2 separate regions of the Homo sapiens genome follow, and region 1 is linked to region 2. Evidence: fine-mapped expression QTL. A gene starts in region 2. The other region holds a variant in brackets. All regions are shown on one strand. Distances are from middle to middle.

Region 1 (15,832 bases), 320 kb before region 2:
GGTATAAAACCTGTTGAAATGAACATGGCAGAGTTCACTGCAGCCCAATGACAGGCTCCCATTTGGTTCTCGGGGGCACCAAAGAGAACGGGCTTGCTCAGAGCCTCACTACCTCCTTCTAGGGGGTCTCATCTTTCATCACTCAACGCCATGCAGTCAGGATGGGCACCTAGGTCTCAGTGTTTATGTAAAAAGGAACAATACAAAGATGAATGAGAGAGGACAGAAGCCAGGACTTTCTTAATTTCCCTGATGTAACTTGCTAAAAAGTTTTTATTTTTAAGTGAAAAGAAATCATGCCTGTAATCCTGGCACTCTGAGAGGTCAAGGCGGGCGGATCACTTGAGGTCAGGAGTTCAAGACCAGCCTGGCCAACGTGGTGAAACCCTGTCTCTGCTAAAAATACAAACATTAGCTGGGTGTGGTGGCATGTGCTTGTAGTCCCAGCTACTCAGGAGGCTGAGGCAGGAGACTCGCTTGAGCCTGGGAGGTAGAGCTTGCAGTGAGCCGAGATCGGGCCAGTGCACTCCAGCCTGGGCAACAAAGCAAGCCTCTGTCAAAAAAAAAAGAAAGAAAGAAAGAAATCAGACATCTGTTTTTCTTGTAGAATAGGTAGGACTTGAAAGAATGCACTGAGAAGATGAAGGCTGACTTACGTGTGTCTCATTGAATGATAGTTTAGCATGCTGTGACTGCAGGGGCTTAGCTCTCATCAGAGTAGCCTCGCACATTTGTGTCAGTTATTTTTTTATTCTTTATTTTTAAATCCCCATCCCTCAGCTTTGTTAAGGTACAATTGACAAATAAAAGTTGTATATATTTACAGTGTACAACGTGATATTTTTATATATGTATACATTGTGAAATGCATGAGTCAAGCTAATTAACCTATCCATCACTTCATGTAGTTATTTTTAAATATGTTTTTTGAGGTAGAGTCTCTCCCTGTCACCCAGGCTGGAGTGCAGTGGTGTGGTTATAGCTCTCTGAAGCTTCCAACTCCTGGGCTCAAGCAATCCTCCCACCTCAGCTCCTGACTACTGGGACTCCAGGTGCATGCCACTACGCCTGGCTAATTTTTAAAATTTTTTGTAGACATGGAGTCTTGCTGTGTTACCCAGGCTGGTCTGGGACTCCTGGCTCAAGTAATCCTCCTGCCTCGGCCTCCCAAAGCGCTGGGATTACTGGCATGAGCCGCCATGCCCAACTGTATGTCTTGTTTTGAGAAGAATCTATTCAGGTCCTTTGTCCATTTTAAAATTAGGTTATTTGTTTTGTTGATATTGAATTGGTTGAGTTCCTTATATATCTTGAATATTAACTTCTTATCTGATGTATGATTTGCAGATTATTTTCTCCCATTCCATAGGTTATCTCTTCACTCTGTTGATTGTTTCCTTTGCTGTGCAGAACCTTTTTAGTTTGATGCAATCCCATTTGCCTATTTTTGCTTTTGTTGCCTCTGCTTTTGGGGTAACATCCAGAAAATCATTGTCCAGATCAATGTCATGGAGCTTTTCCCCTAAGTTTTCTTCTAGTAGCATTATAGTGTCTGATCTTACATTTAAGCCCTTAATTAATTTTGAGTTGATTTTTGTATATGGTGGGAGATAAAAGTCCAATTTCACTCTTCTGCATGTGGATATCTAGTTTCCTTAACACCATTTATTGTCAAGATTGTCCTTTCCCTATTGTATGTTCTTGGTACTTTTGTCAAAGATCAATTGATCATAATAGTGTGGATTTATCTGTGAGCTCTCTGCTCTGTTACATTGGTCTATATGTCTGTTTTTATGCCAGATGCAAGCTGTTAGAACTAATAAATGAATTCAGTAAAGTTGCAGGATACAAAATCAACATACAAAAATCACGCCGGGCATGGTGGCTCATGCCTGTAATCCCAGCACTTCGGGAGGCCAAGATGGGCGGATCACTTGAGGTCAGGAGTTCGAGACCAGCCTGGCCAACATGGTGAAATCCTGCCTCTACTAAAAATACAAAAATTAGCCAGGCATGGTGGTGGGTGCCTGTAATCCCAGCTACTTGGGAGGCTGAGGTAGGAGAATTGCTTGAACTGGGAGGTGGAGGTTGCAGTGAGCCGAGATCGTCCCATGGTACTCCAGCCTGGGCAACAAAGCAATACTCTGTCTAAACAAACAAACAAACAAAAATTAATAGCATTTGTATACACTAACAATGAACTTTCCAAAAAAAAAAAAAAACCCAAGAAAATAATCTCATTTACAATAGCACAAAAAATTGAGGAATAAATTAAACCAAGGTGAAACATCTGTACACTGGAAACTGTAAAATATTGATAAAGGTAGTTGAAGAGAACACAAATAAGTGAAAAAACATCCTATGTTCATGAATTGGCAGAATTAATATTGTCAAAATACATATACTACTCAAATCGATCTATAGATTCAATGCAATCTCTATCAAAATTCTGATAGCATTAGAAAAAAACAGTCCTAGAATTCATATGAAACCATAAAAGACCAGGAATAGTCAAAGCAGTCTTGGGCTACAGGCATCACACTACTTCATTTCAAAATGTTCCACAAAGTTATAGTAATCAAAACAGCATGCTACTGGAGTAAAAATATCAGTTGTTTTTTAAATGCCAAAATGAGCTTATTTGAGGAAAAAAATGGTAATAGAGTCTAGGAGTACAGACACATTTACATTTGCTTCAATACTCTTGAATGTCAATAGGTTGGTTTTAGCCTCCGAAATATACATTTTAGTAGCAGAAATTCTAGGCTTTAAGTCAGTCCTGACTACTTTGTAATTTATATAGCCCTCACTTATAAAAAATACATTTTTAATTTCATTTATTACTTATAATTAATACCTTTTCTCACTTTATTCCTAAACCAAATACACATCAAACACACACCCAACTCACATTTTTAGAAAGTTTTCATTTATAACAAATCAAAGGCTGATGTCTTGGCCTGACCACATGCTCCTGCAGGGGATTGGGGTATGCCATCCCAAAATATGCCACTGTGGCATGAGGATTATTTTGAGCTGAAGGCAATGAGAATCAAATAGGAAGCATTCTCTTCTCTCCTCTTTTCTGCCTAAAAGCAGGGCATAAGGTTCCGTCTGTGAAGGTTTCCCCTGTCCTGTACCAGGAAGAGGAGAGCAAATGTACCAGGAAGTTGGAGGGTCAGCAAAATGAATGTGCATAAACAGATTTTACGAAAATAACCCTTATCTCCCGTTAGCTTTCTCCATATAGTTCCTACTCACTTTGCTGCAATTTATTTTCCCTTGAAGCCCAAACCCTTTTTCCTTTGTTACAATGGCATGTGTCCCCAAGTCTGATCACTTCCTTGGGTTCTCCTTCTTTTCTGTGACCTCCCAGTGCATGTAGATATCGATAAATTGTGTATTCCATTTCTCCTGTTTAATCTGTCTTTTATCAGTTAAATGTGAAGGACCCAAGTCATGGAACTTTTGTGTTCCATGGGCAGAGGAAAAGTTTTTCCTCCTCAACACTCCTGCATTTTTTCCTCTTTTAAATAATTTATTTTACATCTATTATACCACACAGCATGTCTGATATATAACTCCTTTATAAGATAAAGCAAAGATAAAAAAATTTTATCTTATGAGAAAGAAGACACACCATCACATAGAGTCTTCAAATATCATTGCATTGTAACTTTTGTAATCTGACAGTCATGAAACTATCTGTAGAATGGTTTAAACAGGCAAATTAAAGAACACTATCAAGCAGACCTGAACTGTCCTAAATTGTTAGGTATGCATTTTGCAAACATTACTTTTATCGATGGTAACGGTGGGGCTGGGGAGTGTTGTGTCTTTTCCCACCTGCCTGGTGACGATCGCCACAGGATGTTGGGATGAGTGGCCCTTTCCAGGGCCAAGGCTCTTGCGCCTACAGATAGCAGCCCATATCTGTCCCTGTACTTGTGGCCTGGCTTGGTGATTGCCTGGGTGTCAGGATTTCTTCCGGTAGCTTTATGAAAAGTATCCATGAGGCCAAAGAATTTGTATGTGGAATATTCGTACACTAGCTCACCGACCAGGTCAGAACTCAAGACTCTCAGAGCCCCAAATGATGTCCAGCTTGTCCCTCCGCAGCAGACTGAAAGCTTGTAACAAACTTTAGCTGGCTAGTACTGTGATGGACAGGCTTGCTGTAGGTTGCACCCTTAGAGTAAGTCGCCATCTTAGCTGACTTGTTGGTTGCTGCCAGATGGAAATGCACAAATTGCAGATGAGGTTTGAATCATCTTTGTGCCAAGCCAAAATAAATGGAAAATACAGCTTTATAATAATGACTACTATTTGATGAAAATTTCATTTGTGGCAGAATTGTCACAAATACCATGAATCTTCAAGTAATACTATAGAGTAAATATTGTTAAACCCATTTGCAGGTGAGAAGACCAAGATTCCAAGCAGCGAAGTATCTTATCTAGGGTCATATAGCTAGTAACTAGCAGAGCCTGGATTTGAATCCACAGTTGTGTGGCACCCAAAGCCTACACTTTTTTTTCTCAACAGCAGATGCTATCAATGTTAAAGTTTTCAAATTATTGGAAGCCAGTCGTATTTAGAACTTGCTGGCCACCTGGCAATATTTGGGAGAGCTGTTCACCACCTTTAAATAAATAAATAGCTGCTGCTCCCCACTCCGAAACAAACCAGATAGAGTTTCCCCTGTGAGAAGCAGCTCCTTGGCAAGTCTATGCCTGTAATTTGGAGCACTGTCCCTTGTGACTTGGGCTCATGATTGTTTTGCTTTCTCTGTCTCTGGCTGTGGCTCAATTTGGAGGAAACTTCTGGATTCCTCTCCATGACCTCTTAAGTAAATTCTGTATACTTAACCTGATAACTACCCTCTCATCTGTTTTAGATTTTGGGGGGATGCCAGCTTCTCTGGGTGCTGCTGAAGAAGTCTTCCCCAACAACTGTGCGTGCAGAGGTGGACTTACCTTGAAGCTAACGACACTCACATCAGGTCCCCTCAGTGCAGAGCCCCTTCCCAGGGGTATTGTGTTCCTATGGTAGTAGTTTAGTAAAATTAGCAAAAGTATGATTTTTTTTTTTCTTCGAGACTGAGTCTTGCTCTGTCTCCCAGGCTGGAGTGCAGTGGCGCGATCTTGGCTCACTGCAACCTCCACCTTCTGGGTTCAAGCGATTCTCCTGCCTCAGCCTCCCAAGTAGCTGGGATTACAGGCACGTGCCACCACACCCGGCTAATTTTTGTATATTTAGTAGTGATGGGTTTTCGTGTTTCTTTTCTTTTTTCTTTTTCTTTTTTTTTTTTCGAGATGGAGTCTTGCTTTGTTGCCCAGCCTAGAGTGCAGTGGTGCGATCTCGGCTCACCACAACCTCCATCTCCTGGGTTCAAGCAATTCTTCTGCCTCAGCCTCCCAAGAAGCTGGGTCTACAGGTGTGTGCCACCATGCCCAGCTAATTTTTGTGTCTTTAGTAGAGACAGGGTTTCACTGTGTTGGCCAGGCTGGTATCGAACTCCTGACCTCATGATCCGCCTACCTTGCCCTCCCAAAGTGCTAGGATTACAGGCTTGAACCACTGCGCCTGGCCCAAGAGATGGGTTTTCATCATGTTGGCCAGGCTGGTCTTGAACTCCGGACCTCGTGATCTTCCCGCCTGGGCCTCCCAAAGTGCTGGGATTACAGGCATGAGATACTGCACCCGGCCAAAAAGTGTGATCTTTTAATTGCAGCTGGTTAGGACCACTGTGTCTTCCCCTTTTGACTTCTCCTTGTCTTAATTCTCCTTGAGTTGGGTGGCATTGAAGTAGCCACAGGCACTTGGATATGTGGCTAAGGGGAAGTCAGGTTGGGGGTGTATATTTAGTGAGAGTTTAGTGGGATGTGTTCTGGTGGTTCAGAGTCACTCTGTAGACAACTCGTGGCTGGCTTTCCCACGTAGGATGGGTTTCAGCAGTACCCTACTGCATACCGTGGCAACTTGACTGGAATTATGAATGACGGCCTAGAATCAGGGGCGGAACTGTGATGTGAACCTGTCTTAGGATACTGACCCTGCTGGGAAGTAGGAAGTGAAGGAGGAACAAGTAGAGCTGGAAACTAGTTTGGGAGGGCAGGTGCGGTGGCTCACGCCTATAATTCCAGCACTTTGGGAGGCTGAGACAGGAAGATCACTTGAGCCCAGGAGTTTAAGACCAGCCTGAGCAACATGGCAAGACCCTGTCTCTATAAATAACCAAATCAAAAACAAAAACTGGTCAAGCATGGTGGCACATGCCTATGGTCCCATTTACTCAAGAGGCTGAGGTGGAAGGATCAACTGAGCCTGGGAGGTTGAGGCTGCAGTGAGCTGTGATTGTGCTACTGCGTTCCAGACTGGATGACAGAGTAAGACCCTGTCTCAAAAACAAAAACAAAACAAAACAAAACAAAAAAAACTAGTCTGTGGAAAATATTATGGTAGTGGGTCAGCCAGTTAATAAACAGATTATATTTTTTTCTTTGCCTTTTGTGGCACTTGCAGTATTTGTTAGTTTTAAAAGATATGTTATTTGTTGTGAAATCTTTTCTCATTCTGAATATTTACTTTTGTGCTACATTTTGCATTCATGAGTTTGTATTGTTTTGCTTAATTTGCTCCCTGAATACAGATGCTACAGAGAATCCTCCCAAATGTGAGTTTTATGAGCACCATGAAATGCCCATAATAAGACAGCCCATTGCAAACACATATTCTTCATTTGTGCAGATCTTTTAAAAACTCTTTTTAAAAGAGATAGGCTCTTGCCCTGTCACCTAGGCTGAAGTACAGTGGCGTGATCATAGCTCACTGCAGCCTCAAACTCCTGGCCTCAAGAAATCCTCCTGCCCTACCTCCTGAGTAGCTGGGACTGCAGGTGCGTGCCACCACATGCCACTAATTTGTGCAAATCTAACCAAATTGTATGTTAGGTAAGAAGACAGAAACTAAAAGTTCATTTTAGTTATTTCGCTCTAATCTTCAAGTTTTGTGGATTTAAAACTCTGGCCAAGTGGAAGTTGACATCTCTTCATGGGGTCGGAGGGATCAGGGTGGGGTGAGGCAGGTGGCACAGGGAGGGCTTCACAGTTTATTGCTCCTCCCCGGCAGGGAAAAGGGAGCTAGATTCCAGGAGATGGGGGCAGAGAGACACAGCAGGGCCTGTCCTTTAATTTATTTCCTATTCTTTTCTAAAAGAACACAGGATATTCTCTTTAAAGACACTAATATTAGGAGTGTAGCCAAAAATACTGACAATGATTAATTCTGGGAGCTTCAATTAAAAGTGATTTCCATTTTTTCCCTTTTTACATACTATATATTTTCTGACTTTTCTGTAAATACCATGAATTAGCAGTTAAAAAAGAAGCACCTGAAAAACCCTTTCCTCACTGTACCCAACAATCTTGCATGTGTGCATGTGTGTGTAATGTGCATATGTGTGCATGTGTGTGCATGTGTATATGTGTGTGTAATGTGCATGTGTGCGTGTGTGTAATGTGTGCACATGTGTGTGCATGTGTGTATGTGTGTGTAATGTGCATGTGTGCATGTGTGTGCATGTGTGTAATGTGCGCGTGTGTGTGCATGTGTGTGCCATGTGTGTGCCATGTGTGTATGGGGTAGTTATACTGAGGAGATCCTTTTCCTTTCTTCTCTTCTTGTTTCTTTCCTTCCTCCCTCTCTTCCTTTTTCCCTTAGCACAAATGCATAAAGGCTTACTAGTGTCTTAATAAATCTTCAGAAAGTACAAAGAATGCTTTATTTGATACCACTAAAAATAAGTGCAAGATACAAATTTTTAATTTGAAAAAACATAAGATAGAAAGCACTTTTCTTTGCCTTTTGTGTGTGTGCATGATATACATATATGATATATATACATCTATATCATATACTTATACATATATATTATATACATATATATACATGAAATTCATGAGTAAATTACCAATTCATTGTTGAGAATTGAAGAAGACTAAGACAGAAGTTAAGATTTAATTATCTGTCTGTATTATCATCATTCAAGACACAAAACTGCTGAGTTTTATAATTGTGGGGAAAATCTATTGTCTGTGACAACTCCCTTTACCAGCCGATACTTACATAAAAGTCCAGGAGACACAGTTTATTGCTTTTAAGGAAGACCTTGTCCTTTCCCTCGCAAATGATGTGTGGTGTCTCGAGCTTGTTGGACTTCCTCTGGGCACAGAACATGGAAGATGAGCAGGTATATAATGTGTAGATATTCGTTGGTCCTTTTAAGAGAGGAATATTTGCAGTAAAAATAGAATAATTTATTTAAGATATAAACTCCACTTACATTATAGCTAAAGGCTGCTATAGAACCCATTTCTAAGGTTTTTCTCTATTTACTCTACTCCTCAAGCCCAGGTCGCCCCAGGCCTTCTCCTGCCCTGGTTCCCTGCCTCGGGACATTCTCATTGCTAAGTCCTGAGAGCATCTTCATGAATGCCTCATTAACACTTCCTGGCTATTCATTAGCAAAGTTAGTGTCTTCTCCTGGTTACTTAAAAATCTCTTGGTCAGCCCTGTAACTTGCACACAAGGAGGCATTCAGACAGTGTTGTTTTGAAAGTGCATTTTATAGACACTGTTCTTTAGACTGAAGCTTCCCCCGTCCTCCGCTCCTCTCCGGTTTTCCTCCGCCTGCACTCAACCAGCTCTACATCTCCATCTGTTTTGAATCTTCTCTAATGTCCTTTCTCTGGGCACAGGAACCCAGACACTCTACATTCTGATTTTTTAAAGGGAGTCAAATCAGTCTGCAACAAGACCAAATACAAGTTCAAGGAAACTGAACCATCAACTGAAATTTGCCTGTCAAGCTTATCTTTTTCTGCATTCTTTGAGTATTAGTGAGTAAACAGAAATGGCATAATAAACTATCATTTCAATCCAACTTTGGGCAACCATCAGCTTGAAGGGCTTGGGTTATTGTGAGATAAAGTGAGATGAGACATGGCTAAATTCCAACCGGTGCCTGGCACATGGTGAGCACTCCGATATTAATTCATTGCCTTCGTTTTGTCACGGTGGTCTGGTTACATTTGTAGCTGCTACCGTGTAGCTCTGCACCATGAAGAATCACTAAGAACTTAATGAGCTGTATTTTCTCCAAAGCCATAGGCTTTGTCAACACAATGCTAAACATTGTGACAATTTTTGACTGAATCGAGTTAACTGACTGAATGTTTTGAAGTATTGACACAGCAGCTAAAGGAGTGAGAACGGTAGTCAAGCCAGCTATTTCCTATGATGAAAAGTGGCAAGTATTTCAAAAATAAAACTAGTGTCGAAACACGAGAAGCCAGTGGAAGTCGCAAGTGGCCACAGGGCCTTTGGAAAGCACTCACTGAAGGACCTGGCTCAGGAGCCAGGTGTGGTAACAAAAATCTGAAGATGTCCCTGGTCATCCAACAAGCTAAGCAAAGCTGAAGAACCGGGTGATTCCACCCCTTTCACCGAAGCTTCTGTAATTTACTTCCTTAACAGAAAATGGGAAGTTTCACAAACTCTTGAGAAATGACGAGTGTTGGTTTATTCCTTCCATCTTTTCAGCCGTTGCTTGCCTTTCCTTCTTTCCTCCCATCACTCTGAGGAGGGGTAGGCGCTGTCCAGACGTTAGCGCTGGGTGTTCGAAATCTTTGCAAGG[A/G]AAGTTGGGGCCAGGATTGCACTAATTGGGAAATCTTTGTTTGTCAGTTTAATTTTCAGTGAATTTCCTGAAAGATTAAAAAGATTGTGTTGTACATTACAGATATATATACATTTACAAGTTGTTATATATGTATATTATATGTAACATAATAAATCATATATTTGTATTATCTTTCTGACATATTATACATATATTGTACACAGTATTATATGTAGTATATATAGTGTTGTCACTCAGATGTAGCGATAATACTGTATATATACTGTATCTAACATAGTATATATTATATGTATACTGTGTAATAGTTGTATAATATGTAATAATAATATATGCATAACATTTACATATGTACATATGTTTATAGATATATATATCTGAAGAGAGAGAGAGAATTGAGTGATTTAAAACCCTGAAATGTATTTACTAGCATTACATAAGAGCAAACACACTTGATAGTAACTTGGTAGGTCATTTATGAAAGATTTCTGACCTCAGCATGAGTGAGAAATTCTGTGCTTCTCCAATTACCATTGGAGAATGAATGAAGCCATGACGACAGATCCGTTTCCATCATCACAATCACTGCTGGTTTGAGGATCCTTCCCCAACAAAAGGATCTCCCTTGGCAATGGCCAACTTCATTGACACAACAAACATTTGTCACAACAAAATTTTACCTTTACAAAAGGACTCAGACGGGTTTTTGAAGTTGACGTAACTGGGTTTGGCATCTCTGTTCAAGAGGAGATGGCAGCTCATTGGCTTTCCTCATCAGGGAAGCAAGATCTTTAAAGGGGCCAGTCTTTTCTCCAGTTAACTGGAGAGAGGGTTTTTGACTGCACACATCAGCTAACTCAGGAGAAAAAAAACCTTAGGGTTTTGTTTTGTTTTTTGTTTGTTTGTTTTTCTTTTGTGATAGAGTCTCACTCTGTTGCCCAGACTGGCAAGGTCACAGCTCACTGTAGCCTCCACCTCCCAAGTTCAAGCGATCCTCCCACCTCAGCCTCCCTAGTAGCTGGGACTACAGGTGTGCACCACCACACCCAGCTAATTTTTCTTATTTTTTTGTAGAAACGCGGTCTTCCTATGTTGCCCAGGCTAGTCTCAAGCTCCTGTTCTCAAGTGATCTTCCAGCCTCAGCCTCCCAAAGTGCTGGGATTACAGGCATGAGCTGTTGCACTCGGCCAATGACTATTTTTGATTGTTTTCATGCCAGGATTTTCCTTTCCTTTCCTACATAGCATTGATAAGGATGATCAAATCGAGACTTAGTCTATCTCCTCTTTCTGCGAGTGGCCTTTATTCCTACTGAATCTGTGACATGTTGCCCATGTCAAAGAAAACGTGACTGAGGATATGGATCATGGTTTTCTGTTTTTGGGTCATAATATTTTACAGTGTTTCCAAAGAACCTAGAGGGCATGCATGAAACAATAGGTGCAACCCAGCTAAAATTAACTCCTACTGGCTAGGATAGCTGTAAATGTAAAGCTACAGGTTTTTTAAAGACTTACAGTAGCTCATACATAGCGTGTACATTTATAAGCATTATTGAGTTGGAAGATAATGACAGTCACATGTTGAGAATAGAATATGATATCTTAACGTATGTTCCTCCTCTCTGTGAGTCTCAGGAGTCCAATTATTGAAACTTAAAAATGCAGCACTTTAGTGCATGACTCCAGAACCAGTGGGAATAAGTAACAACAAAAATTTTAATCTATTTACAGGCCTTACAAGATACATAGAATGATATGGAAAAAACATACTTGACACAAACATTTAATTGTATGATTTTGCTTTGAATTTTTGTTTGTAAAAATATACATATTCCTCCTTAAAAATGGCAGCAATGTTATATTGCCTAATGTTAATTTTCTTTCTGCATATTTGTATAATGAGATAAATGTCAAATCTGTTAGAAGTATATGTATTGGACTGGAGAGTTTGGTTTTCTTAGTTAGGATGTTTTTCTTTCTTTCTTTTTTTTGAGACAGAATTTTGCTTGTCACCCAGGCTGGAGTGCAGTGGTGCAGTCTCGGCTTACTGCAACTTCCGTCTCTCAGGTTCAAGTGATTCACCTGCCTCAGCCTCACTAGTAGCTGGGATTACAGGCGCCTGCCACCACACCCAGCTAAGTTTTTTGTATTTTTGGTAGAGACAGGGTTTCACCATGTTGTCCAGGCTGGTCTCAAATTCCTGACCTCAGGTGATCTGCCTGTCTTGGCCTCCCAAAGTGCTGGGATTAGAGGTGTGAGCCACCATGCCCTGCCCATGATGTTTTTCCTACAAGGAACAGAAACCTTGCTTCAAATGATCTTAAACAATAAGGACATTTTGAGGCTCGTGGAACTGGAGGTATTGAGCAATTGGGGCTTTAGGGTCAGCTTAACCAAATGGGTCTGGTTTTGGGGAAATTCTATCAGCTGTATCCTCTTTTTGGTCTTGGTTTAATTCTAAGGTCCCTCATCCTGACAAGCGTGACACCAGTTCCTGGCTCCACAAGGATAATCGTGGAGTGCAAGGAAAGACAGTGTCAGCCTGGATAGCCTTCCCCAGCAGGGCAACAATCCCTTCTGGACCCAGGCACTGATTATCTTTCTGTTTCTCCATCTTTGACGTGTAGGCCTCTGTTCTCATGTTTGTTACCTCGTGATCTCAAGATGGCTCCTGGTCCTCCAGGAGTCACAACTGTGGTAAAAAAAAGAAAAAAAAAAAAAAGAAAAAAAAAAAAGGTCAGGTGCCTAATTGTATCAGGAGATAGGAGAAACTTCCTGGAAGACACATCCTGCAGACTTCTGCTTATGTGCTATTGGCACGTATTGGGTCCTGTGGTCACTGGGACATATACTTCCAGCTGCCTACCTGAAGTCCATTTTCCTCTCTTTCTTTTCAACAGAATCTTGACTTTTTTCAGAGGGGCAATGTATCCATGAAAAAATACACATCTCCCGAGGCTAGACTTTCCAGATTTAGCAAAAACAAACAAAAAACAGGATACCCAGCATGGGACATACATACTTATACTAAAAATTATTTGTTGTTTATCTGAAATTCAAATTTAACCGAACGTCCTGTGTTTTATCTGGCAACCCTTCCCTAGGTTTTCTTAAGGCAGTGTAGTCATGAAAGAGACCATCCTATGAGAGGGGGGCTTCCAGAAAAGTCTTTTTAAAAAGCGACTAAACTTGTCAGACACATTCCTTTTGTCATTTGCACTTTGCCCTTTCACCTTTCCCCTGCCTGGAATTTGGGCAGAATACCTGGCACCATCTTGCAACTGGGAGACAGAATTCATACTTTAAGGATTGCAGAGAAAGAAGGGAGGAGAAGCCGGATTCCTTAAACATCTCTGAGTTACCTACTCCCAGATTCCTTGCTGTATAAAAACAAACAAAGGGCACCCTTATTTGGCCGAGTCACCATAGTTCAGTTCCTATCACATGCTACCAGGAGCAGTCTTGACTTATCTAGCTACTCCTTGCTGGAAGGGTGAGGTGCAGACTGGCTGGTTGTTTACCAAACTGTTCTGTTTTCTTTTTCCCTGCCATGCTGTTGGACTACGTTTTCCCAGGCCCCTGCAGTTAAGTGGGGTTGTAGGGCTGAGTTCCAGCCCATGGAATGTGGGTGGAAGGAATGTATGTGACTTCCAGGCCTGCTCCTTGCTCGTGCTCTCCCCACCTGCAGCAAGAACAGGGGCCATAGGGAATAGTGGAGACATTGGAAGAAAGCAGCCTGGGTTCATGGTGACTTCTGGAAGTAGATCCCTCTCATTTCATGCTGACCCTCACTGTTCTGTAACATGAGCAAGAAATAAACTTCCCTTGTGTCAGCCACTGAAACTGTCCCTATAAACTTTATAAAATTAATTAGAGAAGGAGGGAGGGAGAGAAACAAAAATAAACCAAGTTTTAGCATATTCAGCATTAATCATGAGGTCAGCCTGCTGTCTGACCTCTTCCTTGTAGTTGTTCAGTACCTATTGCCTCAGAATTGCTAGAACCTGTTACAAGATTATAGTTCCCTTAACTGCCCTAAAGACAACAACTTGCACATTATGAGACATTAATTTTTCCTTTTGAGATACTCTTTCAGGTCCTGCATACTAGTGAAACTAGACGTTAGCTGGTCTGAAGGACCCCCATGAGCTGAGTCATCAAAGAATGCAATTTCTATGTCCTGATGATTTCATCCATCTTACCTTGACCAATCAATGACCCCAATTTCCTAGCCCTTTATCCTCCACAATCTTCTTAAAAACCCCAGCCTAGAACTCCTCAGGGAAATGGATTTGAGGTTTTCCTCTCATATCCTCACTTGGCACCCTGTGATCATTAAACTCTTTCTCTGCTGCAAACTCTGCTGTCTCAGTGTAGTTGGTTTGTTACTGTGCAGTGGACATATGAACCTGTTGGTCCTGTGACACCACTGAGACGCTGGATTCTTTGGGATCAACTAATTCAACAGTATCTGTCATAAGAGAGACTGCTTCGGGCCTACGTTCCAAGTTAAGAATCCTGAGATTCACCCCATTGGACCCTGTATCTTCTGTCCACTTTTTAAATGAATGGTTTCTAGAACCTAGAGACAGATGTTCCATAGGTATAGCTAGTCTGTGGGTAGAGGGCTGCTTTTCCAGTGCTAGGACCTTAGGCTGAGAGATGCAACCAGTCTGTAAGGAGGGAGCCAGGGAAAGAACTACCCTGGATTTACCCTTCCCCTGCTCCATGATCTCCTGCAGGGGCTCCCATTGGCCAAACCCAACCAGAAGCTCAAGGTCATGAGAGCCCATGATGTAGTCCAGCAGGGTCAGGCTTCTAGGGCAAAGTAGGGTGGAGAAAGGAGGGGACAACAGGCTGTGTGTGTGTGCACAGTCAATACAAAAACCAAATCTGGGTTTTGTTAGGATGTTGGAAAGGGGACAATGATGCCATCTTTATAGAGTTAATAAGAATTCTGGGCAGAAATATTGTTATAATTAAGCATTAATCAGGCTGTACTTTGACTCACTTCCTTATGACTGAAAGTCACATAGTACTAGATATAGACCATTCACATCCCCATCATTCCTATAGATAGGATGTCTGACATTAGAATTATATGGCTTTTGGCTGGGCGTGGTGGCTTACGTCTGTAATCCCAGCACTTTGGGAGGCCAAGGCAGGTGAATCACCTGAGGTCAGAAGTTTGAGACCAGCATGGCCAACATGGTGAAACCCCATCTCTACTACAAATACAAAAATTAGCCAGGCGTGGTAGTGGGTGTGTGTAATCCCAGCTACTGAGGAGGCTGAGGCAGAAGAATTAGTTGAACCTGGGAGGCAGAGGTTGCAGTAAGCCGAGCCTGCACCACTGCACTCTAGCCTGGGCTATAGAGCAAGACTCTGTCTAAAAAAAAAAAAAAAAAAAAAAAAGAAAGAAAAAGAAAATGATAATATGGCTTTTGCTTAAGATAGGATCCCCAACATTGGAATTGTAAGGCTTTTATTTAAGAATTACTTAGTTATGTTTTTTTCTGGTCCTGAATTCCAGTGAAACAGCTGATGACAACCAGCTGGAAAATCCCCACAGAGGAATGGGATTGGCGTGGGAATACAGCTTCTTCATCTCCCTGTCCCACGACTTCTTCTGGCACTCTTCTACCAGTCAACGATCTCTATACTTCAGCCCACTCCCAAACTCTCGAAAACCCTAGCCTCAAACTCCTTGGTGAGATAGATTTGAGGTTCCTCCTGTCTCCTCATTCAGTGGCCCTACTACAAAACTTTTTCTCTGCTGCAACCCAGTGTCTAGGTATGTTGACTTCCCATAAGCAATGGGCAGGCAATGAACCTATTACAGTTACAGTAAGGGAGGGTGAGGAGCAATCCACAGTTTCTACCCCCCTGGTTAGATCTCAGCCCCTGGGGGCTAAATTCATGGCTACAACTTATTTTTGAGATAAAAATATTTTGGCCATGTGACAAGCATGTAAAAGGAACGACTTCTGAATTTTCACTAGCACATGTTAAATTCCAAGTTCTGTAAGATGTTGAGTAACTTATTTATCAAAGCATTAGAGTTGCCAGGACAAAATAACTTATTTTAGTAGTATTCAATGTATACATTTGCTTTAATTCTTCTGCCAGAGCT
Region 2 (15,832 bases):
AACCTGAAGAAGGAAAAATTATGTTCAAGGCACATAAAGGGAATAGAGAAGCTGTGGTAGTGCTGCTTCCACAGTTAATTGACTAGGAATTGTTATAACTGCAAAGGCTTCATGGTTCAAACTGACTTCAGCTTTTTGTGTTAGGATAAGTGATTTCTATACATTTCCGTCATGTAGCTCTCCCCTGACATCCTGGAGGCTGAAGGGTCCTCAGCTCCTCTCCTTCCCTCATCTCTGTCCTATTGTATTGCTCCAGTGACATAGAACTTTTGGTTCTTTCAACTCTTGTCTCTGGGTCTTTGCAAATGCTCTTTGGATGCCTTATCATCATTTTGACTAATTCCATTTTCAGTATCCTTTTCTAGGGGAGATCTGGTCATTTATTGGTGACATGGTTTGGCTTTGTGTCCCCACCCAAATCTCAGCTCCAATTGTAATCCGTATGTGTTGAGGGAAGGAGGTGATTGGATCATGGGGGCAGTTTCCCACATGCTGCTGTTGTGACAGTGAGTGAGTTCTCATGAGATCTGATGGTTTTATAAGGCAGTTTTCCCTGCTCTTGCTGGCTCTCTCTTGCCTGCCACCATGTAAGAAGTGCCTGCTTTCCCTTCTGCCATGATTGTATGTTTCCTGAGGCCTCCCCAGCCATGCAAAACTGTGAGTCAATTAAACCTCTTTTATTTATAAATTACCCAGTCTCGGGTATGTTTTTATAGCAATGTGAAAATGGGCTAATACACTTGGTTTCTGCTAAATCTTCTTGCTATGGGCTTATATAAATCTCCTATTCCCTTTTAGGAGCACTATATTACACTTTCTCCAAAAAGTGCCAAATCATCTAGTTTTTCATGTGTTTGTGTAAGTTATAGTTCTAATGGTTGTTTGCAATATGCTCTACAACCCCCAAAACCCTTTCCTTTGTTTCCTTGAATGTAAAAACTTCTTCATTATTTCCCCATTTTAATGTGTGATATTTTTCCTCCTAGAAACATGACAAAAACAGCTTTTCTCCATAAATTACTAGGAAACTATTTACATTGCTGTGTTTTCATAAAATTCATAAATCACATAAACAGGACATGTTACGAATTAATTGGTAGATCATCTATCTCTGAATGGGTTAAAGAATTGCCAAGAGTGATCAAGCCTGCTCTCTTTCTGGCTCTTGATACGGTGTTGACAGCCAAGCAAAGAGCTTCTTCAATAAATCCACTCTCATATTCAAGTTTTTCCAGATGTGAGAAGTAATTAAGTCATTGCATTTACTGAAGCCTTTTATGCTTTTCAAGCAAGAACTTGCGGCTGTGGTGAGTTAACTCTGCTTGTTACATGTGTGTGTGTTGCATGTGTGAATGTACATATGTACAAGCACACATGTGACATTTGCCAGTAGTCAAATGAGACCCCACCTGAAAATAAAACAAAACCAAAAGCTGATATCAATAAATGCTAGAAATTTTTACAGCTAAATTTCACAATTGAGAGGTGGGCTTTCTCCAGTAATGCCTTTTTTCTTTCTATTTTTCCTGAATGTTAAAGAAATGAGGGTAATCAAATCACTTGCATCATTAAAGAATTTTTTAAGTGGTAAAGTCATGACTCTCATAAAACATAAACACGTTTCAAAGATTTTTAACTCATTAATAAATGAGGGTACCCATAAGACCTTACAGTTGGTTCAAAGGTGAATCTGAAGAACCACATATAAATGCATAGTAAGGAATGCTGAAATGCATTTACAAATAGGTGCAAAAAGGGTCTGTCTCATGGACAGTACTCAATTGCCTTCCCAAGAACACAGCTACAGTAATGCTCCCTTATCTATGGTTTTCCTTTCTGAGGTTTCAGTTACTAAGGTCTGGAAATAGGTCAGTACAGCAGAAGATACTTTGAGAGAGAAAGAGAACACATGCACATAACTTTTATTATAGCATTTTGTTATAATTATTCTATTTTATTACTAGTTGTTCTCTTGCTATGACATCTTAAAATTTATTTTTATTTCGATGGTTTTTGGGGGTACAAGTGGTTTTTGGTTATATGGATGAATTTTATCATGTTGATGTCTGAGATTTTAGTGCACTTGTCACTTGAGTAGTGTAATTGTTCCCAATCCGTAGATTTTAATCCCTTACCCTTCTCCCTTCTGAGTCTCCATTGGCCGTTACAGTACTCTATGTGCCTTTGCATACCAGTAGCTTAGCTGCCACTTATGAGTGACAGACAACATGCAGTATTTGGTTTTTCATTCCTGAGTTACTTCACTTAGAATAATGGCCTCCATCTCCATCCCAGTTGCTACAAAATACGTTATTTTGTTCTTTTTCTGCCTGAGTTGTATTCCGTGGTGTATGCATACCACATTTTCTTTATCCAGTTATTGGTTGATGTCCAGTGAGTCTGGTTCCGTATCCTTGCCATTGCGAATTGTGCTGTGAGAAACATAACACATGCAGATGTCTTTTTGATATAAGGACTTCTTTTCTTTTGGGTAGATACCCAGTAGTGGGATTGCTGAATCCTATGGTAGCTCTACTTTTAGTTCTTTAAAAAAGCTTCATATTGTCTCCCGTAGAGGTTTTACTCATTTACATTCCCACCAGCAGTGTATAAGTGTTCCCTTTTCACCACATTCACACCAATATCTATTGTTTTTTGACTTTTTAGTAATAGCCATTCTGACCAGGGTAAGGCCGTATCTTATTGTGGTTTTAATTTGCATTTATCTGATGATTAGTGATATTGAGCATTTTTTTCATATGTGAGCCATTTGTATATCTTCTTTTGAGAAATGTCTTTTCATGCCATTACTATCCTAGTTTATAAATTAAACTTTATCATAGGTATGTATGTATAGGAAAAACATAATATGTATAGAGTTTGATACTATCTGCACTTTCAGGCTTCTATTGGGGGGCTTGGAACACATCCTCTATGGATAAGGTCTGGGGGCTACTATAATTTGCATTTCTATGGATAAGAATCATTCTCATTCTTATCAGTTTTCAACAGTTTATGGAATCGTGAAGTAGTTCAAAGATAATGAAAGAACAGTATAGTCCTGAAGGGAACACTCAGTAATTTGTTTTCTATGTGCCCATTTCAAAGTCTTTCACAATTATTCCTGACACATCTCACATAAAACTCTAGGAAAGGGACACTCTGTGGGAGTCAAGCTGTTTGATCCTGCCTGACCCTTTGGTTCTGGGTATAAGCCACATACAGACCAAGAAGAGCTTAGGTTTCTTCCTCTTGGTGGTGAAGATTGCGGGAGTGATCATGGTATTAGCTTAATTGCTATGAAAACTGAACTAATGTCTCAAGCTGTAAATGAAACCGAAGACTTTCAGCTCAATGGGCGCTATGTTAATGTAGACATTGAGAATACTTTCCTGCCCCCTCTATAAGCAGAGTACATCGTTTTAATTTGGGCTTCCCCACCACACCCAACCTGGAAATTGTTGTGCCCCATACTATTTCCAGTTTCTTGTTTTTCACTTCCTCCAACATCCATCTAACTATGTAGCTCTCATTTGTGAGTGGGATCTACATCTGTGAAAAGGGGAATATACATATGGAATATACCTTATTAAATTTTTTTTTTTTTGAGACAGTGTCTTTGCTCTGTTGCCCAGGCTGGAGTGCAGTGGTGCGATCTTGGCTCACTGCAAGCTCTGCCTCCCAGGTTCACGCCATTCTCCTGCCTCAGCCTCCCGAGTAGCTGGGACTACAGGCACCCGCCACCATGCCCAGCTAATTTTTTGTATTTTGTTTAGTAGAGACGGGGTTTCACAGTGTTAGCCAGGATGATCTCGATCTCCTGACCTCATGATCCGCCTGTCTCGGTCTCCCAAAGTGCTGGGATTACAAGCGTGAGCCACCGCGCCCGGCCACCTTATTAAATCTTAATAGCATACTTGGTCATGGTGACACATGTTTAGGTTGCTTTGTGTTCTTTCGATTTCTGATTATTAAAGAGTAATGAAATAGCTATTAAAAAGGAGAAAATATGTTCATGAATTCTAAATTGTAAAAGTTGATTGGACCAATATTAAGCAAAACTCTTCTCTTTTATAAAGGAGACAAATTGTCCTAGAGTGCTTACATTTCTTCTTTCAAGAAATGATTTATCTTGCCTCGTCCATCAGTAAAGTTCTGTTCTGGGAAGATACCAGTTACTGAGTAAATAGGTGAGGCAAAGATGGAATGACTAGGGATTCAACTGAGAAGCAGGAACCTTCCGGAAGACGGTCATCAAAACAAAAACCAGGCAACAAAAAATGAGTGTGAAAAAACCATCATGGCAGGGAAACAAATCAGGCAAACAAATTCTTCTTTCACCTAACCATTTGGAATGAATATTTTATAATAAGAAATGTTGAATTCATTTTTAAAGTTAAAAGAAAAGCAGTTTATCTCTGTACTTTTTTCCCCCCACTCAGAACTGAATTTGGATCTGTTTTAATTGTTTATTATAAATTTTTATTTTTAAATCATGTATCACCATGTTGAGGAAAAGTACATGTTCTATCATTATGAAAAAAAGGAGAAAAAAGTGAAATAAGTGTGAAACAGTCAAAAACCAAGAAAGTCTTGTCATAGGCGACCTCAAGGAAGGTGAAGACAGTTGTGCACTGCACGACTCCAGATGGTGGCACAGATACGTTCCCTTGGCCACGGCTGTGTCTCTGAGACTTGAATTACCCACCTGACAGTTGCTAAGGAAATACATTTGCTTACGTGTAAACATCAAGCTATCAAAAGATCAGAAGACTTCTGAATTATAAATAAGCAAGTGAGCTCTTATCTTTAAGCTGTCTAGTTGCAGAAGGCCCTTCTTGACTTTAAAAGGATATTAATGGCACAGAGAATGAGAAGACCTTTTCATGCCAAATGTTTTTCACATCACTGTGTACCTTTATTGGTGGTTGAAAAAAAGCTTGTGTTTGTGAGGGGCTCCACTATTTTTAAGGTGCTTTTTCTTTTTATTTTTTTTAAGAGGGAGTCTCGCTCTGTCACCCAGGCTGGAGTGCAGTGGCGCGATCTTGGCTCACTGCAACCTCCGCCTCCCGGGTCAAGTGATTCTCCTGCCTCGGCCTCCTGAGTAGCTGAGATTACAGGTGTGTGCCACCATGCCCGGCTAATTTTTTTCTTTTTTCTTTTTTTTTCGGGATGGAGTCTCACTCTGTCACCTAGGCTGGAGTGCAGTGGCAGGATCTTGGCTCACTGCAACCTACGCCTCCCAAGTTCAAGCGATTCTTCTGTCTCAGCCTCCCTAGTAGCTGGGATTACAGGCGTAATCCCATCTACTGCCATCACACTCGGCTAATTTTTTTTTTTTTTTTGTATTTTAGTAGAGATGGGGTTTCACCATGTTGCCTAGGCTGGTCTCGAACTCCTGAGCTCAAGCAATCCACCTGCCTTGGCCTCCCGAAGTGCTAGGATTACAGGCGTGAACCACCGCACCCAGCCCATGCCCGGCTAATTTTTCTATTTTTACTAGAGACGGGGTTTGACCATGTTGGTCAGGCTGGTCTCGAACTCCTGACCTTGTGATCTGCCTGCCTCAGCCTCCCAAAGTGCTGGGATTACAGGCGTGTGCCACTGCGCACCCAGCCAGTGCTTTCTTTTTATTAACTTCTGTCAACTCAGTTTTTCTGTTTAACTATGAAGAATTAGAGGTAGTGAGGGGTTGAATAATTTGCCCTAGAGGACATGGCAGAGCCAGACCTGGACTTTGAGAGTTTAGCCATAAGTGATGTCTCTTGGTCTCATTCTGTATCAAGGCATGCGTAGAGTACTAAAGTAGAAAAGTAAACAACATAAAAGAAGTGCCCAATAAGTAAAAGCTATGAGCAGCTACAGAGATTTTGCCTTTTGGAGCAACCCAAGGTGAAAATATCTATTAAAATACATTAAGCTTGGTTTTTGGAAAAGTCGATAGGGGATTTTGAAACATGATAGCTGTCCATGAGGAACACTTTCTTCATATTCTCCATGTCATATTTTAGAGCTACTGACAAGAAAACTTTGCTGTGATGAAGTGCAGGGCTTAACACTTTTTTAGAGAAAACTTTGCATGAATTTTATATTATAGGTGAGAGGAAAAAAGATGTATTCAATCAAAAGTAATGGTGTCTCTAGCTTGCCAAACGATCCATTAAAGACTTCATCCAGCAAGTGTTGAGTGATGAGTATTTTATTTCCAATTCTATCTTAGTATGAAGAATATTTTATTCACCATTCTATCTCTAACACCAAGCACAGTGCCTGGCATAACAACATTTATTTGTTGAACAAATGAACACAGGTCTCTAGTTAGGTTCTGATCCTAGTGCTTCATTGAATGGCTTTGTAAATGAGACACATAATTTTTCATAGCCTTCATTTTGTCATCTGTGAAAGAGAGGGCTTTAGGTGTATTGATTTCTTAAGGATCCCTTTGGCTTGAAATTCTGATTCTAGAATCTCAAATGGAAAATTTGTGTTCACATTGCACGTGGTGTTTGGTTTTTGTTTTCAAAAGTTTGTGCATTAAATCTCAACAGCTTATTTTCTTGCAGCACAGTGAAGAGTCCCTAAGAACATATTACGTGATGGGAAATGAGAAATAACTGCACTGCAAGCCTGATGAAGGTAATTCACCTTGGGGAATAGGTGTCACCCTGAGTAACACCAGTACTGTCTCCTCAAATATGAGCCAAAAGGTGTGTCTCAGGCAGTTTTGGCAAGATTTTCTCCCTACACTCCTAGAAATTTGCAAGACAAGTTTACAGAAATTACTCCTCCCTATTTCCAAATAAAGATAATGTAATAGATCTATAGAATATTAGAATAGTCTTCTGGCCAGCAGAGGACTTGAGGGAAATAATTGGAATGCACACATTCTTTCCTTTTACGGAACAAATAAAATATACAAGGAATGTCCTTGTGGAATCCACTACACTGGGCCAGCATGATATGGCTGTAATCTTAGAGTTGTGGTTTCCAAGTTCAGCATGCTTGAGGCAATTTCTTTTTGGTATTTTGTTGGTGAACAGGATATGTGATACCATTAATTTAGCCTGTATCAAAAACTAGTTCAAGACCAACAGCTCCTTCTAGAACACAACATTTTAGGAGAATAGAGCAATGTTTCCCTAAGCAGTCGGTCATATTTCACAGAGGAGTGTTAGTTTTCTGGGGTAGTGGGTATGATTAAAAAAAAGATAGGTAGATAGGTAGGTAGGTAGATTAGATTAAATTGGATTAGATTTGATGAGATAAACAGGTTTGTGTTCAGGGGAACACGAGGTTAAGCAAGCCTAAGCAGGTTTTTTGGTTGAAGGTCTTCTCAGAACTTCTAGTATGTCAATATGCCTTGTAGATCTCTAAGTGGCAGGGACAGAGACTGGGGTACAGATTTCCCAAACATATTTGTTTAAGAAACCTGCTTTTTTCCCCCAGAATCTTTTGTGGAACTTTTGCCTCATGGAACACAATTTCAGAAATAATTTATACGTGATGACTGTGTAGAATGTTTTTCTTGTCAGGATTTTCAGTTTAGGTAAGGCCAAGGCATTTTTTTTTTACAGTACATTGAAAACTAGATATGATATCAAGAGAAAAAATTATGCTTGGCTACTTAGAATGACATACTATTTTTAATAAATTTGTATTTTGTATCATCAGTATTACTATTCAGTGTAGGGTATTTTTTATGCCCAATGCTAATGTGCTATGACTTGGTAAAATTAATTTACCCTAGGATTTACATAACCAGATTAATAAATTGTGAGTTGTAGGGAGTCTTGGAATTGCCTGAATTGACATTAAAATATTTGTTTTGAGAAATTTTTTTTTAACCTTGGTTTTACGTAACCAAGGACATACACTACATTATAAATATTGTGATGGTTTATTTTTCCAAACTTTTCTGAATGTGGGGTGCCCATTGAGTAATAATGCAAATCACCAATGACTTTGTAAAAATTGACATGATGAGTAGAACTGCAGAATTCAAAGATGATGATGATGATTTTTGAAACGATGTTTCCAGAATTGTTAAATTATGTATCAACATATGTTAACTGCAACTTCTCATGTTTAATGATGTTTACAATTAATACAATACCATACTCGCCAGTATAATACTAACAGTCATAATTAACTCAGAATAGATTCTTTGAAGTGGTTCAAAGGGCTTTTCATAATAAATAAGTAGCCTCTAATCAGCTAATATAAAGTGGGTATTTTTTAGGATGTGAGAAGTACTGGTATGTCTGATAAAACATATAATTTAGGTTGACAAAATGAGTTTGAATGATCCAGATTCACTACCCCAAGTCAGAAGGAAGTCTGACATTCCAGTGAAAGCTTTATTTAGACAGAGACAAGGAATCTTTGAGATAACAGGCTTTGGACTGTGCTATCTTGAGTGTTAGAGCTGAGTAGTTTTCCCAGAATCTCTAAGTCCTTTTTATGCTCTTTTATGAATGAATAGAATTAGTAAAAGATAAATAAATTTTTTCTTTTGGATTTCTTAACCAGTGGAAAAAATGTTGACTTTAAAAGTTCATAAAATCAAATTTTGCTTAAGAATATGTTATTTCCACTTGTGAGGCCAGCCTGGTAGACCTCTGGGATCCTTTTCTGTTCACTCACACACCACTGAGATAAGGAGTGAAGTGTGGGCTAAATAGGGCTGAGGCTTGGGCAAGGGCATTTCTGCCAGAGCACCAGAGACGTCAGCATCTCAAGGGCACTGTGGTATGGAAAAGGACGCCACATGAGTAAATTTTAAAAATATAAATATTTTAAAGGGTAAAAATGAGGGTCCCTGTATTTGAGGATATAAAAGATGAAACTGAAGAAGAAAAGATAGGGGAAGAAGAAAATGAAGAAGACCAGGTGAGTGAGAAAACACATACTCAGACCAGCGTTTGTTCCTCTAAATTGACAATGAGAAAAATGTTCTTTCTGTTCTTTTCTTTTTTTTCAAATAGGTCTTCTATAAGCCTGTTATTGAAGACTTAAGCATGGAATTGGCCAGAAAATGCACGGAACTCATTAGCGATGTAAGTGGCTGGAGTAATTTTTGTCTTATTTTGCATTGCACCTGTGGTATTATTATGTTATAGAGTCATAGAGCTGTGGGGGAAACCCTGAAATCACCTTTTAAAACACAGTCACTTTCCAGATCATGGAACAAAGTCCTGAAATTTTCAGTGATTTCCCCAAGGTCACCTATACAGAGAATTTCTGCTAGAGCAAGTCTCCTCATTCTTAATCCAGAATCCTGTCCCTTATGAGTTTTGCTGTCACGCTGGCATGAAATCATAAGGCATTGAATTGCAGTATTTATTCCATTTGAGAACCCCCAAAGATTTTAAAATGAATATAATGATGTAATTTGTCTTGGGAGGCCCTCTATCTAAATGAATAGTCATTTTTTTAACATTTTGGGGCCTTCTGAACAATCTAATGAATGGACTTGTCTTCCAGAACAGGAAAATGCATATATATATATATATATATATATATATATATATGCATATAATATTTATTTACAATTCAGGATTTGTTGATTACTGACCTGCTTGCTAAGAACCCTGATATTAGTGCAAGGATATTAGTGCAAGGGGTATTTTTGTTGTGACATTTTTTAGTAACTGGGATTGGTTGATATTACACTTTAAGGGAATCCCAGAATTATTGAATGATTGAACATATAATTTTATGTTAAATATGTAAGCTAGAATTCAAGAAGTACAAGGAAAAATGTTGCTCACCAGGGATGAGAATTTAGATGATCCTCATTAGCGGTTCTAAGAGGATTGCTGGTCCAGAGAAAGGGTAACTCCTGTAAAGTGAATATGTGCCTGTGTCTTCATTTAGAGAGATGAGCACAATACTGGTTGTTTCTGTTGTTGATAATAAGCAAAATGATCAGAATGTTTTGCACGTTTGTTTTCTAACGGAAGTCAGTCCTGGGCAGGAGGGTAGTGGTCTGGCACATCCTCCAAAGTCAACCTGCCTGGGTTGACTCCCCAGTAACCTTGGGAAGGTTATGGAACCTGGCTTGGCTCCATCCCTCAGCTGTAACATTTATAATAAGATTAAATAATGGTAATGCATATAAATGCTGAATAAACTATCTGGAACATTGTGAGTACTCCATAAATGTTAGCTGTTATTAACTACTCTGTCTGTTACTTCCTTTTACATCCATCCAATCACAATTTAGATATGACTGGCTCTTTCTGACAAACCAGAAGGCAAGCACAAAGGATGCTGGTGGAAATCATACCCTTTCCCATATACTTGACATGTGATGTAATTACCCTTTAAATTAAGTATTTCTTTGTGCTATTACTTAATAGTCATTAGCTATTGTATGTGAAAGTTCTCTGTAAATTGCAGTAATAATAAGTGACAATGACAACAACAACAACAATAACACTATTGGCAACAGTTAAGATTTAGTGACTATTGTGTGCCAGGGATTGCAGCTTGCGAGGTAGGCGCTAGGCTTTTTCTCATTTCTGAAGCGAGGAGATAGAGGCACAGAGAGGTTCAGTACCTTGCCTGGGTCACACAGTTAAGCAGAGGCAGTAATAGTTGAACACAGAGGCCTCCCTCTTTACACTGCCAAGTTATCTCTCCCTGTAGATTTCCATGAAATGTTGTTCTTCGCCTTATTATTATTATGTTACTATTATTAGTAGTAATGCTACCAACTAAAACCCTGAGTTCCTAACCTCTTCCAGCTTTGATATATTTTTATTGAAGTGCAATTATAGCTGAGCTAACTTGTGTTACATAAACCATCAGGACTAAAGTGGTAACTGTAGTTAGTAGGTGATTTGGTTGGAGTTGTTTTGGATAAGATTGTCTATCAGTGACTTTAAAACCAACATGTTGTGAGGGGTGGTGGCCTTTATCATTATGCAAAAGCTAAATCCATACATTTCACACCCACGTAGGTAAAATGAAACAGATAGGCATACTTTCTGTTTATTACAGATTTTTGTGGCATGGTAGAATGTACTACTTAAATTTAGGACATGATTATTCTGCCTTAATTTTTTTTTTTTTTTTTTTTTTTAGACAGAGTCTCGCTCTATCACCCAGGCTGGAGGGCAGTGGCACGATCTCGGCTCACTGCAAGCTCCGCCTCCTGGGTTCACGCCATTCTCCTGCCTCAGCCACCCGAGTAGCCGGGACCACAGGCGCCTGCCACTAAGCCCGGCTAATTTTTTTGTATTTTTTTTTTTTTTTTTTTAGTAGAGACGGGGTTTCACCGTGTTAGTTAGGATGGACTCGATCTCCAGACCTCGTGATCTGCCCGCCTCGGCCTCCCAAAGTGCTGGGATTACAGGCGTGAGCCACCATGCCCGGCCTATTCTGGCTTAATTTATATCTGTATACACATTCACATTTTGCTTCCGAATAGAATTCTATACTTGCTAAGATACTTATTTAATTTTTAGATTTTTTTCCTTTTTCTCTTCTTTTCTTTCTTCCTTTTTTTCCTTCCTTCCTTCTTCTTTTTTATTTTTCTGGACAGAGTCTCACTCTGTTGCCCAGGCTGGAGTTCTGTCATGTGACTGCAGCTCACTGCAGTCTCAATTTCCTGGGCTCAAGTGATTCTCCAGCCTTAGCCTTCCAAGTGGCTAGGACTACAGGTGTGTGCTACCATGCCTGGCTAATTTTCATTTTCTTTTTCGTAGAGATGGAGTCTCACTATGTTGCCCAGGCTGGTCTCAAGCTCTTGGCTTTAAGTGATTCTCCTGCATCGTTCTCCCAGAGTGCTGGGATTACAGGTGTGAGCCACCGGGCTGGCCCTGCTTCGTTTCTGTAGATGAGAGGGATGGTTTCATGGACTTCTCTTCATGGTGCAGCCTAATTGTTACTCTTTGGACTTCTTCCAGCTTTCATATATCCTTAATAACCAATATGTAATAATCAGAACTGTGCAGAGTGGTACAGATGTGGACGGTCTAGATCACGTGTAGAGCAGGATGATGTTTTGCTTAGCTTCTAGCACCCTTTATGATGCTATGAAGAGTTTCTTAGACTTGGGAGCTGCAGAAAGCTGTTAGATCAGCTTGATAATCTGTAGACCATCAGAGCCATTTCATTCCTAATTTCTGACCTGTAGCTGATAGCTTAGGACCCATCATCTTTAAATAATAGTTTGAATTATTTTAACCACACTAGGGCTAGATCTAATCTGTAGTTTTCTGCCCTCTTGCCTGGCCCTTTGAGAACTTCTGAAGTTCATCTCAGTTTGCCGTTTCCCTTACTGAGACAGCTTGGAGTCAGCAGACCTGTAGACACTGCTATATCATCCCCTTGTCAGACAATTTTATAGAAATGTTAAGCAAGATTGGCCTAGAGATCAGCCCTAGGAAGCCTGCACTGCTTAGAATTCTCCATAGAGAGAAATGTCCGTTTTTCAGGTCAAGTGGCTTCACTTTGGGCATCAGTATAAGGCATTTTTCTTTCTTTCTCTTTCTCCCCCCACCTAGTTTCTGCTTTGCACTTGCTCTACCCACATTATGGGGTTCCTCTTTGCACAACTCACTTCCCAGTCTTGAAGAACAGCTGGTCTTCTGAGGCAGCCTCTTTTATTTTTCTGTTAATCACATAATACTATTATTTTCTCAGATATATTTTCACAGATATTCTCTCTGTCATATTTATTCCTGTTAGTCTAACCTAACATTATCTAATCAATCCCTTGAATAAGTTAAACCTATCCTCTCTATTGAGCATTCAGAATCCTGGATCTAGTAGTCTTCTGATGGGGAGTCATAAAAAAGATTGGGCAAAAGGGAATCTTTTGTATGTTTCTTGTAGATTAGGCAGAAAGAGCCTTCTGCAGAGCAGGTGGACCACATCTGCATGCAGCCTCTCAGTGTTTAGTTCAAGGCTGTTTAGGGTGTTCATCTGCATGGCAGCAGGAAGAATATTTTCCAGGCAAATGAACGTTGTTGTGGGTAAATCCTTTCAATGCCAAAAACATTAAATTCTGTGGTTACTCCTCCAGAGAAAGCTTAGATGGTATCAGAAAACCTGGGAGAGTGATCTTAGCTATGTCCAGCCCAGTTAAATAATGATGGAGCCATTGTTTTTCCTTCCAGGGTGTATTGAATTTAACTTGTATGATTTCACTTGTGAAGAGCCTTTCCAGATACTTTCAGTTAAGAATTCTTGTGAAAGGAAAGATCCGCAAACATCTCCATGTCTGTCATCCGATTTCAGCCTTTAGCTAATCTCATACTCATTCAAACAAACTTGGCCAGGAGGAGGAAGCGACCCTGCACTAAATTCATCCTAATTGTAATGGAGACGTGGGATTTGTGGGTGAGGGCAAAAGAGAAGGTCAATGTTTGGGACATCTTAATGATCATAAAGTCATCAATTTTGCCCTTTTTGTCTTTTGGTGTTGGGTTGTGTATTCGGTAGGAGTGCAGATGACTGTAAAAACAGGAAAACTCTAACACAATGGCTTAACAAGTAGGTTTTTGTTTCCCCAGCCTCCACATATAAAGCCCGGAGGTAGGTAGTTCAGGCTGGGTACTATGGGTGTTATCAGTCTCCCAGGCTCCTTTCCTTCTATTCTGTCGTCATTAGTATGGTGGCTTATTCCTTGGTAATGACATCATTGCTGCTGCCTTCCCTTTGATTGAGAAAGAAAAATGTGGAAGACAGAATGTCACAGGGTTGTGCAGCATCTCTCCCTTTGTACCAGAAACACTAGAAGCACTTCTGGGAAGATTTCCACTAAAGTCACAGAGAGTGTGGCTCCCCAGGCCAAACACTGGATGGCATGACCATGCCTGGTTTAGATCAGCTTGTCCTCTGGGGCTGGGCAGGAGCCTGGCTGCTCTCATTAATCCATCTGGGCTCTTTTAATAGGAGATAATGGGAGTGGCCAGTCTATCCAATAGATGGTGTCAACCCGAAATTGTAAGATGTAGACATGGCTGTAATAAAATATAGCAATCTATTCAGTGATTTTTATTTTACCTAAGATTTGTTTCATTGACCAATATAGTTCCCTTTCAATGATCATTTCCTGTTATCTTGGTGTAGGAAGGCTACTAATATGTATCTAATATTTATATAAATATTCCTTATGTATTTAAAAATCTAACATTCTTTGCTTATTGTCATTCATATTGCACAATTCACTTGAAATCACACATGATTGTGTGTGACTTCTAACAAATTGTACAATTTCTCTTGAATTGTACAATTGTAAAGGATCTTAAATTTTAAATACACCTTCATTTAAAATATACAAATATGTGTATCTTTTTAATAAAGACCCAAGAAAAAAAAATAGAGTCTACAATTAAGACTGAGCTATTTGTCTGCCTAACAGAAGAAGTAAATACCTCACCCTTATCCAGTCCTCCTGTCCTGAACGTTCTGCATGTGTCAGACTTTATCAGGAGGCTGTAGCCACAAGCACATACCACTGCAGTGAAGAATGTGAATGTGATGGGGAATAGATGGTGGCAAAAGATAAAAATAATGAGTCAAACTTAAGCCTAATGATAGGCTATTTTCTCTCACACTTAATTATATAACGGAGATACTTTTTTCTCCATATGATCAAAATAGCCTACTATTTATCATACTGCCATTAACAGTTTAATTACTAGTGGCTGAGGAGGGTGATTTGCAGGAACCTAAAATTATGGCTAATCTCTGAGAAGAAAAAAAAGTAATTTAGTGCTCAGATAAGATAAATATGTTCTCGTGTTGATTTCATGAATAAAGCAAATGTTTAATGTGGTAGGCATCTGATATCCAAGAGTCACAGCAGTGAAATATGGGATTTTGAAATAACTTCACTTAATCTGTATCTAGTTCTACCACAGGTTAAGTAATGCCCGTCAAATCAGGCTTGCATATGGGAAAATCTCCATGTACCATTAGTGTATAACATCAATATTATTCACATCCTCTAAGAACCAGGTAGTATATACAATTCAGCTCCACTTTTGGGTTATAATTAGGGAGAACATATAATTTATCATCTGAAACAGGAACACTTTTTCAGTTTAAGTATTTATGGTCTTGGGAGGATAAACACGAGCATATTACAGAGTGATACAACTTTTAGCAAATTACCTGCATCTTCTCAATGAGTCATAGTTTTGCCTTCCCAGTTTCCAGATTGTGCAGCAATTAGTGTGACAGTGTGATTATACTTTAGGTCCTTCTCCACATTTCCTGACTTCTTTTGGGCTCAAATATCCACCCGGGTCTTCCCCCGGCATAACAATTCTGGCCTATCCCCAAAGGGGAAGAGAGTGAGTCATTTGACTTGTGAGTTGCAGAGAAGAGATGAGCAGGTTTAGCTAAGCCTCACTGGGCTTTGTCTTGCTGATCTCCAGCAAGAAGGCCTTCTGGAATGATCTCCACCACATAGCAAGCTTTCTGGGCAGGTTCAGTTCTTCTCTGCGCTCAGGAGGAGGATTGGGAAGCCTATGGGTGCTCATAAATTGGGAGGAATTAGTAACAGGAAGCCCACGTTGGCCACAATTTAAGCCTCTTCCTCTAATCAAGCATGTCTAGGTAATAACGGTAATAGTGATCCCCATTTAATTTCGCCTCTACTTCTTAATTGGTCACATCTGTCATGCTGACTACTTATTTTCTACCTTGAGGTAGGCAGCTGTGTTTCTGTTTGGCCAAAGGCTTATGTGTCAAGGCTTAAAAGCAACAAAACACCAGGACACTTGTAGGAGCGAGATGGCACATGCTTGCTAATTGCACTGGGCTGGCTGGGTAAACAGGACCCATCACCCGTAGCCAGCACGCCTGGTGTTGA

Evidence for each region.
Region 1: its variant is fine-mapped to the expression of NEBL in monocytes (TOPMed, PIP above 0.99).

The regions. Positions count from the first base shown.
Region 1 is chr10:21,206,251-21,222,082 of GRCh38, reverse strand. It overlaps a transcript of NEBL not described here. Among named protein-coding and RNA genes, the nearest start is that of NEBL-AS1, 40 kb to the right of the region's middle. The variant A/G (reference allele first, on the strand shown) is at 9,698.
Region 2 is chr10:20,890,182-20,906,013 of GRCh38, reverse strand. NEBL (nebulette) reads left to right here and starts at 8,703. Exons shown (of 28, transcript NM_006393.3): 1 at 8,703-8,889; 2 at 8,985-9,056. The coding sequence starts at 8,809.